2 separate regions of the Homo sapiens genome follow, and region 2 is reported to be linked to region 1. Evidence: microRNA targets listed by miRTarBase, many of them from high-throughput screens and not tested one by one. Region 1 holds a microRNA gene; the other region holds the end of a gene's coding sequence.
What was found. Region 1 holds the annotated microRNA hsa-miR-5189-3p (UGCCAACCGUCAGAGCCCAGA, at 2,756-2,776, shown strand). A microRNA usually pairs through its seed, bases 2 to 8, with sites in the 3' UTR of a target mRNA and lowers its output. Matches are read on the target gene's strand: a 7mer-m8 pairs with bases 2 to 8, a 7mer-A1 pairs with bases 2 to 7 and ends in A, and an 8mer does both.

Region 2: the mRNA of TAF13 is a reported target of hsa-miR-5189-3p. The part of its 3' UTR that is shown has no 7-base or 8-base seed match.

What each region holds. Positions count from the first base shown.
Region 1 is chr16:88,466,229-88,471,300 of GRCh38, forward strand. MIR5189 (microRNA 5189) reads left to right here and starts at 2,690; the gene lies at 2,690-2,803. The region is part of intron 1 of ZFPM1 (zinc finger protein, FOG family member 1); the gene reads left to right.
Region 2 is chr1:109,059,872-109,064,943 of GRCh38, forward strand. TAF13 (TATA-box binding protein associated factor 13) reads right to left here. Exons shown (of 4, transcript NM_005645.4): 4 at 4,269-4,822. The coding sequence ends at 4,652. Among named protein-coding and RNA genes, the nearest start is that of TAF13, 14 kb to the right of the region's middle.

The DNA.
Region 1 (5,072 bases):
CTGATGGCGGCCGTGGTTAGACAACAGCTCCGTTACCCAGCCCCGGCAGTTCTGGCATGGAGTACTCTGCAGCCCTGGGAGGGGCGCCTATGACCTCATTCTCCTCAGAGAACTGAAGGCTCAGCGAGGTTGAGTAACTCACCCAAGATCACACAGCATGAAGAGAACAGAAGGGACCCTGGCTTCTGGCTTAGAGTCTAGCCGAGGTCAGAGTCTCCATCCTGGCTGGAGGTTCTGGGGTGTTTGCAGTGGGGGGCAGCCCACGAGCCTCCCAGGGGGCTCACCCGTACCTTTCAGGGAGAAAGGCCAAGCACAGAAAGGGCAGGGGACGGCTGAGGGCCGCACAGCCCATCCTGGCAGTGGGAGGGGATGGGCGGAGGCTGGCCTGCCTCTATTCTTGTTTCTTGGGTTCATTTCATCTGTCCCCAGAAAATAAGCTCCTTTGGTGAGAAAGTTGGTTTCTTTCTAACTTTTGGGTTTGGTTTTGTTTCAATATTCTAAAAGGAAGTCAGCTATTTCCAGTGCAGTGGGGTGTGTATGTGGGGGAGGGGGGTAAATGTCAGCTCCAGTGACCAGCGTTTAAATCCTGCCCCCTGGCCGGCAGCCTCTCAGTTTCCTCACTTGTATCATGGGCATGATCACAGTTCCAGCCTCCTTGGCCTTTGAGGAATTAGGGCAGAAGTGGGTAAAGCATCTGGGGCCCTTGTGCGGCAGGGCTCAGTGAACCCCAAAACGGCGGTGGTATTAATGGGGGGACACGAGCCGGGGCGAGGGTCCCTGGGGTGGGGCCACCTCTCCAAAGCCCTCTCTGCCCGCAGCCCACCCTCCCTGAATCCTACTGGCATTCTTCCTGCACGGTTTTCCGCCAACGGCTACAGTGTGCCGATGACCTCAGTGATGTCACCTAGGGCCTCGTCCCATCACACAGCGGCCAGAGTGGCTCCAGAACATTTGTCCCTGTGATCCAAGAGTCTACCCCTTGTCAGTCCCCCATAGTTGCCACAGTCACCCAGACCAGGAGCCGCAGCAAACAAGCAGGGGGTACAGCATCTGTCCCCATGGCCCTGGTTCTCACACACATCCCAGAGTCTCAGGTCTCAGTTTCCTCATCTGTCAAATAGGGCCGACACCGCTAAGCCTGCCCTGCAGGCCATGGCCAACCCCCCTGAGGTCTCCCCACCCCTCCCAGCGGTGCCCACCCAGGGCTTCTCGAGGAAGGAGCTCAGCACCCGCCCCAGTGACACTTCACTTCTCTGGGCTTTGCTGCCTTTTCCTATAAAATGGGGTGCCAGTCGCCCTCTCAGAGTCCTTTCAAGGAGCTGATGGTGTAGACCGCGAGACCTGCCTTGCAGGGCACATGCGCAGCTGCTCCTGTCATGCTGGGACCTCCGGACCCCGGGCCTCGCAGCTGCCTTGGATCCCCTCCCTCCTCCAGTCACGGGCTCTGGGCTGGCTGCTGGGCGTGTTGGGCACAGCGGGCCCTAAGCTGACCCGTGCCCTTTGTGGCTGGGACCTGAGATGGGGAGGCCCCCACCCCCTAGTTCCATGGCTTTGGGAGGTGGGGGTGGGGTGTTTTCTACTCTACCACCCTACAACGAAAAAGAAGAAAAGAGAACTTGATAAAAAAGGGCGATGCGTGCTGTGCGGTGGAGGAGGTGCTATCGCCGTTATCTATCTGCTTGCTCGAGCTGAGCGGCCCCCCTTCCCCTTATCTCACCCCACCCTAATGCCAGGAACAAAAGTGAGAACACACTCTCAACCCGCACACCCGCGAGCCCCCCACCGCCCCTCACACACCCGCGAGCCCACCGCCCCTCACGCCCCCGCGAGCCCACCGCCCCGACCCACCCGCGAGCCCACCGGCCGCTGACGCACCTGCGAGCCCACCGCCCCTCACGCACCCGCGAGCCCACTGCCCCTGACCCACCCGCGAGCCCACAGGCCCTGACGCACCCGCGAGCCCACCGCCCCTCAAGCACCCGCGAGCCCACCGCCCCTCAAGCACCCGCGAGCCCACCGTCCCGACGCACCCGCGAGCCCACTGCCTGCGGCGCACAGAGCCACCAGATCTAGAGGGAGAGCTGAGCACTCGGGGTGCTCTGAAAGTCATCATCATCATCATTTTGCAAAGAAAGCCCCCAAATAGCCCTCCCTGAAACAAGGCAGCCAAAAATAAGAAGTCGCTCTCAACAGGCCCCCACAGGAGAAAAGAGGCCGGCCTTGGAGAGGGGTTGGGACTTGGGGCCAGGTCCCAGCTGTGCCGGCCTCTTGGCTGTACGACCTTGGACCAGTATCTTTCCCACTCAGAGTCATCCCTGAATGGATGTCAGGGAGCCTTCGAGGAAAGGGGAGAGCCTGCACTGTAACTGAAGCCCCCCACCAGCCCCATGCAGCTTTCTGACCCTAGACTTGGGGCTGGGACCAGTCACCCAGAATCTGATACCCCCAGGGCCCCGCCCCCCAGAGCCCCACCCCCATGGCCAGGGCACCACTGTCCTAACCAGCCTGTTGGCAGCCAATGGAAATGGGGTATGCAAATGAGCAGGGGTGAGGCCCAGGGATTGGCTGAGCTGCTGTGTGGGGGCAGGGCCTCCTCCAGGGGCTGCCCTTGACCTGGGGGAGTAGTTCCCATCCTGGACCCTGCCCCAGGACGGGAGACCTCTGCCACCACCACCACCGGCTCTGGAAGGGCCCGCCTTTTAGGGGCCTCGCTGTCTGGGCACAGGCGGATGGACAGGCTGGCCTCTGGATGACCTGCCAACCGTCAGAGCCCAGACCCACGTGGCCTCAGTTGGGGACCAGGACCCAGGAGTTCCCGAGAGGAGTGCAGCCAGCAGCCACTCCCAGATGGGAACAGCGAGTTTCACAACCCGGCAGGGACGGCCCTGGGGCCAGCCAGCCTCCCACCCCCATGTCTGGGCCCACTCCAGACCCTCCTGCAGGCTGCCCCCCACCGCTCCACCCTCTCCCCGCGCTGACTTCCATCCGGAACCTCATTCTGCCAAGCTTCTGAAGTGCCGGCCGGGCCAGGGACGTGGCACCATCTTAATGAATGACAGTCCCAACCCCTTTGCCCACCCTCAGCCTCCCCATCTGTAAAACCGGAAGGCGGTCTAGTAGGTCTGCCTCCCAGGATGGTTTCTGGGCTCTTCAGCAAGCCCCTTGCCGGCCTGGGCCTCAGTTTCCCCTTCCACACCATGAGGCTGAGGTGGCAGGTTCTCTGGGGGTCCTCCTGTCTGTGGCTGTGGCATAGCCTGGAAACCTGGGGTCTTCCAGATTTCCCATTGTCAGAAATTCATGTGCCAGGAGACCATGTCTACAGGGGGCTTAGGACACCTTAGGGGGCATGCACCTGTGTTCTGCATCCACCCACACTGCACAGTGGGTCTTGCTGGCAAGACCAGGATGAGGCAGGCTCCGCCGGCCTGAGACCTGGCTGGAGGCCCTGTCAGCTCCCACGGCACCTGAAAATCAGCCACAGGTGTGGGTGTTTGTCAAAAATGTGTAAGTGGAAAATAGTGGCGGGGCGAGGAGAGAAAGAGTCTGGGCTGAGATCTAAGGAGAGGAAGTAGGGAGGGGCCGTCCGACCAGAACCAGACATCACCTTGGCCAGGGCCCCACCCCCTAACGTGGGGTGCAGTGCCTCTCACGTGGTGAGGGTCAGAGGTGCGTGCCCAGCCCAGAGGATCTCCCCACGCAGCCCTCCCAGTCTGCAGAGGGGTCTCCACACATGCAGGCAGCTCTGTCCTCTCCCAGGACAGCTTGGGGCATACAGTAGGTGCTCCATAAATACTCCCCAGCTGATTTCTGGATCTGCTCCCTGTGCCTGGCTGTGTCCCCAGAGGCAAAGCAAGCAGAAGGAAAAAGGAAACGGAGAAAAAGCCAGGGCCTCCAGAGCCAGCATTGTCCTGGGCAAAGGCCCCTCCCGTGTAGGAGCATCGCCTGTGGAGAGCCACGGTCCTTGTCCCTGTGCTGGGGCTGTGACTCACTCCTGCGGGGTCCTTGCTGTCAGGGCCACCCCACCTGTCCTGGGGACAGGGCTGCTGGACGGGTTGGGGCGGGCAGCCTCTGGATGCCCACGGGTGTCCCCTGTACTCTCCAAACCTGTACTGAGTGCCTGCTGTGTGCTGGGCATGGTCCAGGGACCCCAGGTGACCTCATGGAACCCCAGCCTAACGAGGGAGAGTGAACACAGGGGTCTGACGTGCTCTGTGGCAGAACCACTGGGGAGGCTGTTGTTGGGGGACTGGTGGTGTGGAGGGCCGGGTGGTGACACTCAGTGACAGGTGAGGATGTGGCACGGTGTGGAGGGCCGGGTGGTGACGCTGAGTGACAGGTGAGGATGTGGCACGGTGTGGAGGGCCGGGTGGTGACGCTGAGTGACAGGTGAGGATGTGGCACGGTGTGGAGGGCCGGGTGGTGACGCTGAGTGACAGGTGAGGATGTGGCACGGTGTGGAGGGCCGGGTGGTGACGCTGAGTGACAGGTGAGGATGTGGCACGGTGTGGAGGGCCGGGTGGTGACGCTGAGTGACACGTGAGGATGTGGCACGGTGTGGAGGGCCGGGTGGTGACGCTGAGTGACAGGTGAGGATGTGGCACGGTGTGGAGGGCCGGGTGGTGACGCTGAGTGACAGGTGAGGATGTGGCATAGGGAAACACATCCTCGCCGAGCGCACAGTGGGAGCTCCGAGCAGGGGATGAGGTCGTCCAGGAAGGGGCGGGAGACGCAGCGTGACGCACTGACCCAGGGCCCAGCTCAGATGCCAGTACCTCACCCGGTGGGGTCCAGCCTCCGCGACAGGCATTCCCTTCCCCGTGTGCCCTTGCCAACTACATACTGGGCTGCCCAGAGGCTGCCTTCTGAAGGAGCGAGGGGGCCGGGAGGAGGAAAGCCCAGCTCCCCTGCAGCCATGATAGATAGACCAGACTTTTCCTCTCCACTTACTCCGCCCTGACCGCGATGGGCACTGAGAATTCAGACAAGAGCCGGACTCCCTGAGCTCCCAACCAGCTGACCCTCCAGGGCTGCAGCCATGTGTGACCTCCACCCTCGCGAAGGCCAGCGGCCGC
Region 2 (5,072 bases), not on the chromosome of region 1:
TTCAAGGGATTCTTTTGCCTGACTCTCGAATAGTTGGGATTACAGGCTCCCGCGACTATGCCCATCTAATTTTTGTATTTTTATTAGAGACAGGGTTTCACTGTGTTGGCCAGGCTGGTCTTGAACTCCTGACCTCAGGTGATCCATTCGCCTTGGCCTCCCAAAGTTTTGGGAATATAGGCATGAGCCATCGCACCCAGCCAGATTTGCTTTAAAATAATACTGCCCCCCTACCTTAAAAAAGGTAAGGGTTCTAAAACCAAGGTCCAAAATTAAAAATAAGAAAATTATTTAAAGGTAGGGGGATAGGACAAATTGGCAAAAAGTTGGTTACTTGTTGAAGCTGGGGGCTAGTTACACTATTATTGTGTATACTTGAGATTTTCCATAGGAAGTTTAAAAAAAAGTGAATTAATTTAGGAGAGAGCACCTATATATACTCCAGATCAGCACTGTCCAAAAGAATTTTCTGTGATGATGGCAGTGTTCCATATCAGCACTGTCCAATGCTGTACCCACTTACCATAAGGGTTTTGAGCACTTGAAATATAGCAAACGCAACTAAGGAAGTGAATTTTTCATTTTATTATCATTTTTTAAATATTTTATTTTTTGAGACAGAGTCTCACTCTGTTGCCCAGTCTGGAGTGCAGTGGTACGATCTCGGATCACTGCAGCCTCTGCCTCCTGGGTTCAAGCAATTCTCCTGCCTCAGCCACCCGAGTAGCTGGGATTACAGGCACGTACCACCACACCCGGCTAATTTTTGTATTTTTGGTAGAGATGGTGTTTCATCATGTTGGCCAGGCTGGTCTTGAACTTCTGACCTCAAGTGATCTGCCTGTCTTGGCCTCCTAAAAAGCTGGGATTACAGGCGTGAGCTACCGCACCCAGCTGAATTTTTCATTTTAAAATGTAAACAGCCATATGTGGCTAGTGGCTACCATTTACACAGTGCAGCTCTAAATACTGGAAGACAGCCATGCCACCTTACTACCAGAATTTGAAGTTAATAAGTAAGCTCAGGCATCAAGTCAGCCCGCCGAGCCTCTTTCCCCTTTTTGCTAATAGCAGTATCTAGTATCCCAATCCCATTCCAAGCTCTTTTTTACCAGAAGTGGGGCAAGAGATCCGGGCTATAGTACAACTTCTTCCTGGCCATAGTGACTGGTCCAGGAAGAAAATAAGCAGAGCTCGGATCCTCATAATCCTTGCTTGGAATTTTCTCTATTACGAAGTAAAGCAGCTTCTTCAATTTGGAGTTGTAAGGAGGGAACCCCAGAACTGCTGGCCATCATGTTCATTTGCCACTCTTAGAATAAAACCAAAATTAGGATAAAAGACAGAGAGACAGTCTTGCTTCTCAAGTACTTAGATCCAGTCAACCCTAAATTCAGCTCCATCCCCTTTCCCATGTGTCGGTTAGGTAAGCCAATAAATTCCTTGTTTATGCTATTAATAGTATTGAGTTAAGTTATATCACTTGCAACCTAAAATAGTCAACGCAAAGCCCCACTCAGTCTGGGCAACACAGTGAAATAGGTTCTCTAGCCAGGCATGCCTGTAGTCCCAGCTACTCGGGAGGCTGAGGTGGGAGGATTATTTGAGCACAGGAGGTCGAGGCAGTGAGCAGTGATTGTGCCACTGCACTCCAGCCTGGGTGACAGAGTGAGCAGTTTACTGAAGCCTTGACCTCTCAGGCTCAAGTGATTCTCCCACCTCACCTCCTGAGTAGCTAGGACCACAAGCGGAAACCACTGTGCCTGGCTCTTTTTTTTTTTTTACAGAGATGGGGCTTGCCTAGGCTGGTCTCCAACTCCTGGGCTCAAGCAATCCTCTCGCCTCAGCCTCCCAAGCAGCTGGGACTACAGGCATGCCACCACGCCCGGCTAATTTTTTTGTATTTTTAGTAGAGACAGGGTTTCACCATGTTGGCCAGGCTGGTCTGGAACTCCTGACCTCAAGTGATCCACCTGCCTTGGCCTCCCAAAGTGCTGGGATTACAAGTGTGAGGCACTGTGCCTGGCCTTGATTTTTAGTTGAGATGGGGTCTCTCTATGTTGCCCAGACTGGTCTCCAACTCCTGGGCTCAAGAGATCCTCCTGCCTAGGCCTCCCAAAGTGCTGGGATTATAGGCATGGGCCATGGTGCCCAGTCCTGCTTTTTTTTTTTTTTTTTTTTTTTGATACGGGGTCTCGCTCTGTCCCCCAGGCTGAAGTGCAGTGGCGTGATCTTGGCTCACTGCAAGCTCCGCCTCCCGGGTTCACGCCATTCTCCTGCCTCAGCCTCCCGAGTAGCTGGGACTACAGGCGCCCGCCACCACACCCGGCTAAGTTTTTTTGTATTTTTTAGTAGAGATGGGGTTTCACCGTGTTAGCCAGGATGGTCTCGATCTCCTGACCTCATGATCCACCTGCCTCGGCCTCCCAAAGTGCTGGGATTACAGGCTTGAGCCACCGCGCCCGGCCCAGTCCTGCTTTTTTAAATGAAAAGATTCACCCAGATACTCACTGAAATAAAAAAAATTTTCAGCTAGACTAAGCAGCAAGAATTATCATATTACCAGTAATGGGCATAATATTCTGGGAGGAAAAAAAGTCACAAATCAGTCAGATTCAAGGATCAACCTGTTTAATTGTTCATATTTTATTCCTGTATCAGTAGATTAAGAAAGTAAAATTTTCCCAAGCACTGATTTATAGATCATGTTTATAAGCAGCATACAAAAAGTTAAGTTTCATAAACAATAACATTCAGTGATCTACTTAAATCCAATTGTAATCCTTACTTTAAACTAAGGGCAATAATAATTTAATACATAGAGTAAATACACACAAAACCTGTGTATTCAGAACTACAAACATGGTTTCCATAGCCACGTATGGTTTTAGTCAAGGACACATTTCCACAATGAACAAGTACTTACAAATATGTTAATAAAACACTAACCCAAATGCTTACCCTGCCATCAGCTTTTTAAACAATGCCATTCCTGCTACTGAAAGCATTTATTTTTAGAAGCTTGAATCTGCTCTGGGAAAACGGGTTCTCCTAAAACTTAACAGGATGTTATAAATCCGAAAAGATTTTAAATCAAAAAGCCTTCCAACACAGCATTATTCATGTGAAACTTGCTTTCTTTTTTTTTTTTTTGAGACGGAGTCTCGCTCTGTCGCCCAGGCTGGAGTGCAGTGGTGCGATCTCGGCTCACTGCAAGCTCCGCCTCCCAGGTTTACGCCATTCTCCTGCCTCAGCCTCCCAAGTAGCTGGGACTACAGGCGCCTGCCACCGCGCCCGGCTAATTTTTTGTATTTTTAGTAGAGACGGGGTTTCACCGTGTTAGCCAGGATGGTTTCGATCTCCTGACCTCGTGATCCGCCCGCCTTGGCCTCCCAAAGTGCTGGGATTACAGGCGTGAGCCACCGCGCCCGGCCCGTGAAACTTGCTTTCTTAAAAAATAATAATAACTTGTTATCTGAAGAAAATTAAAAGATTATCTTTTAAGAGAGATAAACATTCTTACAAAAAACTATATTTTCCTCTATCATCTCTTTAAAAGAAATGCAAACCAGTTCATTATCTTTGTTTTTTTGAGAGTCACACTCTATTGCCCAGGCTGGAGTGCAGTGGCGCCATCTCGGCTCACTGCAATCTCTGCCTCCTGGGTTCAAGCAATTCTTCTGCCTCAGCCTCCCAAGTAGCTGGGATTACAGGCACATGCCTCCATGCCTGGCTAATTTTTTAATTTTTAGTAGAGGTGAGGTTTTGCCATGTTGGCCAGGCTGGTCTGGAACTCCTGGCCTCAAGTGATCTGCCCGCCTCAGCCTCCCAAAGTGCTGGGATTACAGGTGTGAGCCACCACGCCCGGCCTAGTTCATTATCTTTAATAATGAACTAGACAATAAACTAATTGTTGTCTAAAAACTTCTGAATACATGAAGTACAAGTCTGAGCTGTCAAGTCAAAAATGCCATTTAGATTTCACATATTAAACAGCTATAGTAGGCCAGGCGCGGTGGCTCACACCTGTAATCCCAGCACTTTGGGAGGCCGAGGCAGGTGGATCACGAGGTCAAGAGATCAAAACCATCCTGGCTACCATGGTGAAACCCCGTCACTATTAAAAATACAAAAAGTTAGCCAGGCGTGGTGGCAGGCGCCTGTACTTCCCAGCTACTCGAGAGGCTGAGGAAGGAGAATCACTTGAACCCGGGAGGTGGAGCCTGCAGTGAGCCAAGATCACGCCACTGCACTCCAGCCTGCCAACATAGTGAGACTCCATCTCAAAAAAAAAAAAAAAAAAAAAAAAAGCTACAGTATAGCTTACAAGGGCATAAACATACCTAACACATTAAATACTACTTTATCCTTTAAATAGTCAAAAGTCAGAACAACGGCATGGTTTGCAAGGTACTTTGACTTATGTGTGGTCATTAAAACCCAGTAAGTAATTCAAGTATGGTAATATAAAGGCAGGCAATTACATGCACCAATATCACCCTAAAATCAAAGGCATAAAAATAAAGGCTGAAAACTTTGTGTTTCTCCATCTTTCATTTACATGGCTAGATATCAGAATCTTACTTTAGAAAATATACAATTATTATATATGGTTTCCCCAGATGGTAATTTTCGGAAACTACAAAAAGTGTCAAGATCCATAATTTGCTTCATCAAATGCTTTTCTAGCTCGTTTCAATTCTTCATTCATAGTAAGCAAGTCTTTAACCCTGGCAAACTTCCTTGGGTCCTTTCGAATCAAGAAGACGATATCTTCAACTTGTACTCGACCTTGTCTTCCAATTGACATTGCCTTGTGAGTCTATTACAAAGAAACATATTACATTTAACTTTTTTAAATCTAATATTTTACTGTTTTAATTTGCATTTATTAATTGCAAGTGAGGTAGAAGATTTTCTCTTATTATTATTATTATGGCTATTCATTTGTGAATTATCTTTCTACTCATGTCCTTTGTCTATTTTCTACTGGATTATTAGCAATGTTCTCCTTTATGCTTCACAGGCACTTTAAAAAAAATCTTAAGGACATGAAAGCTGTCAACTTTATT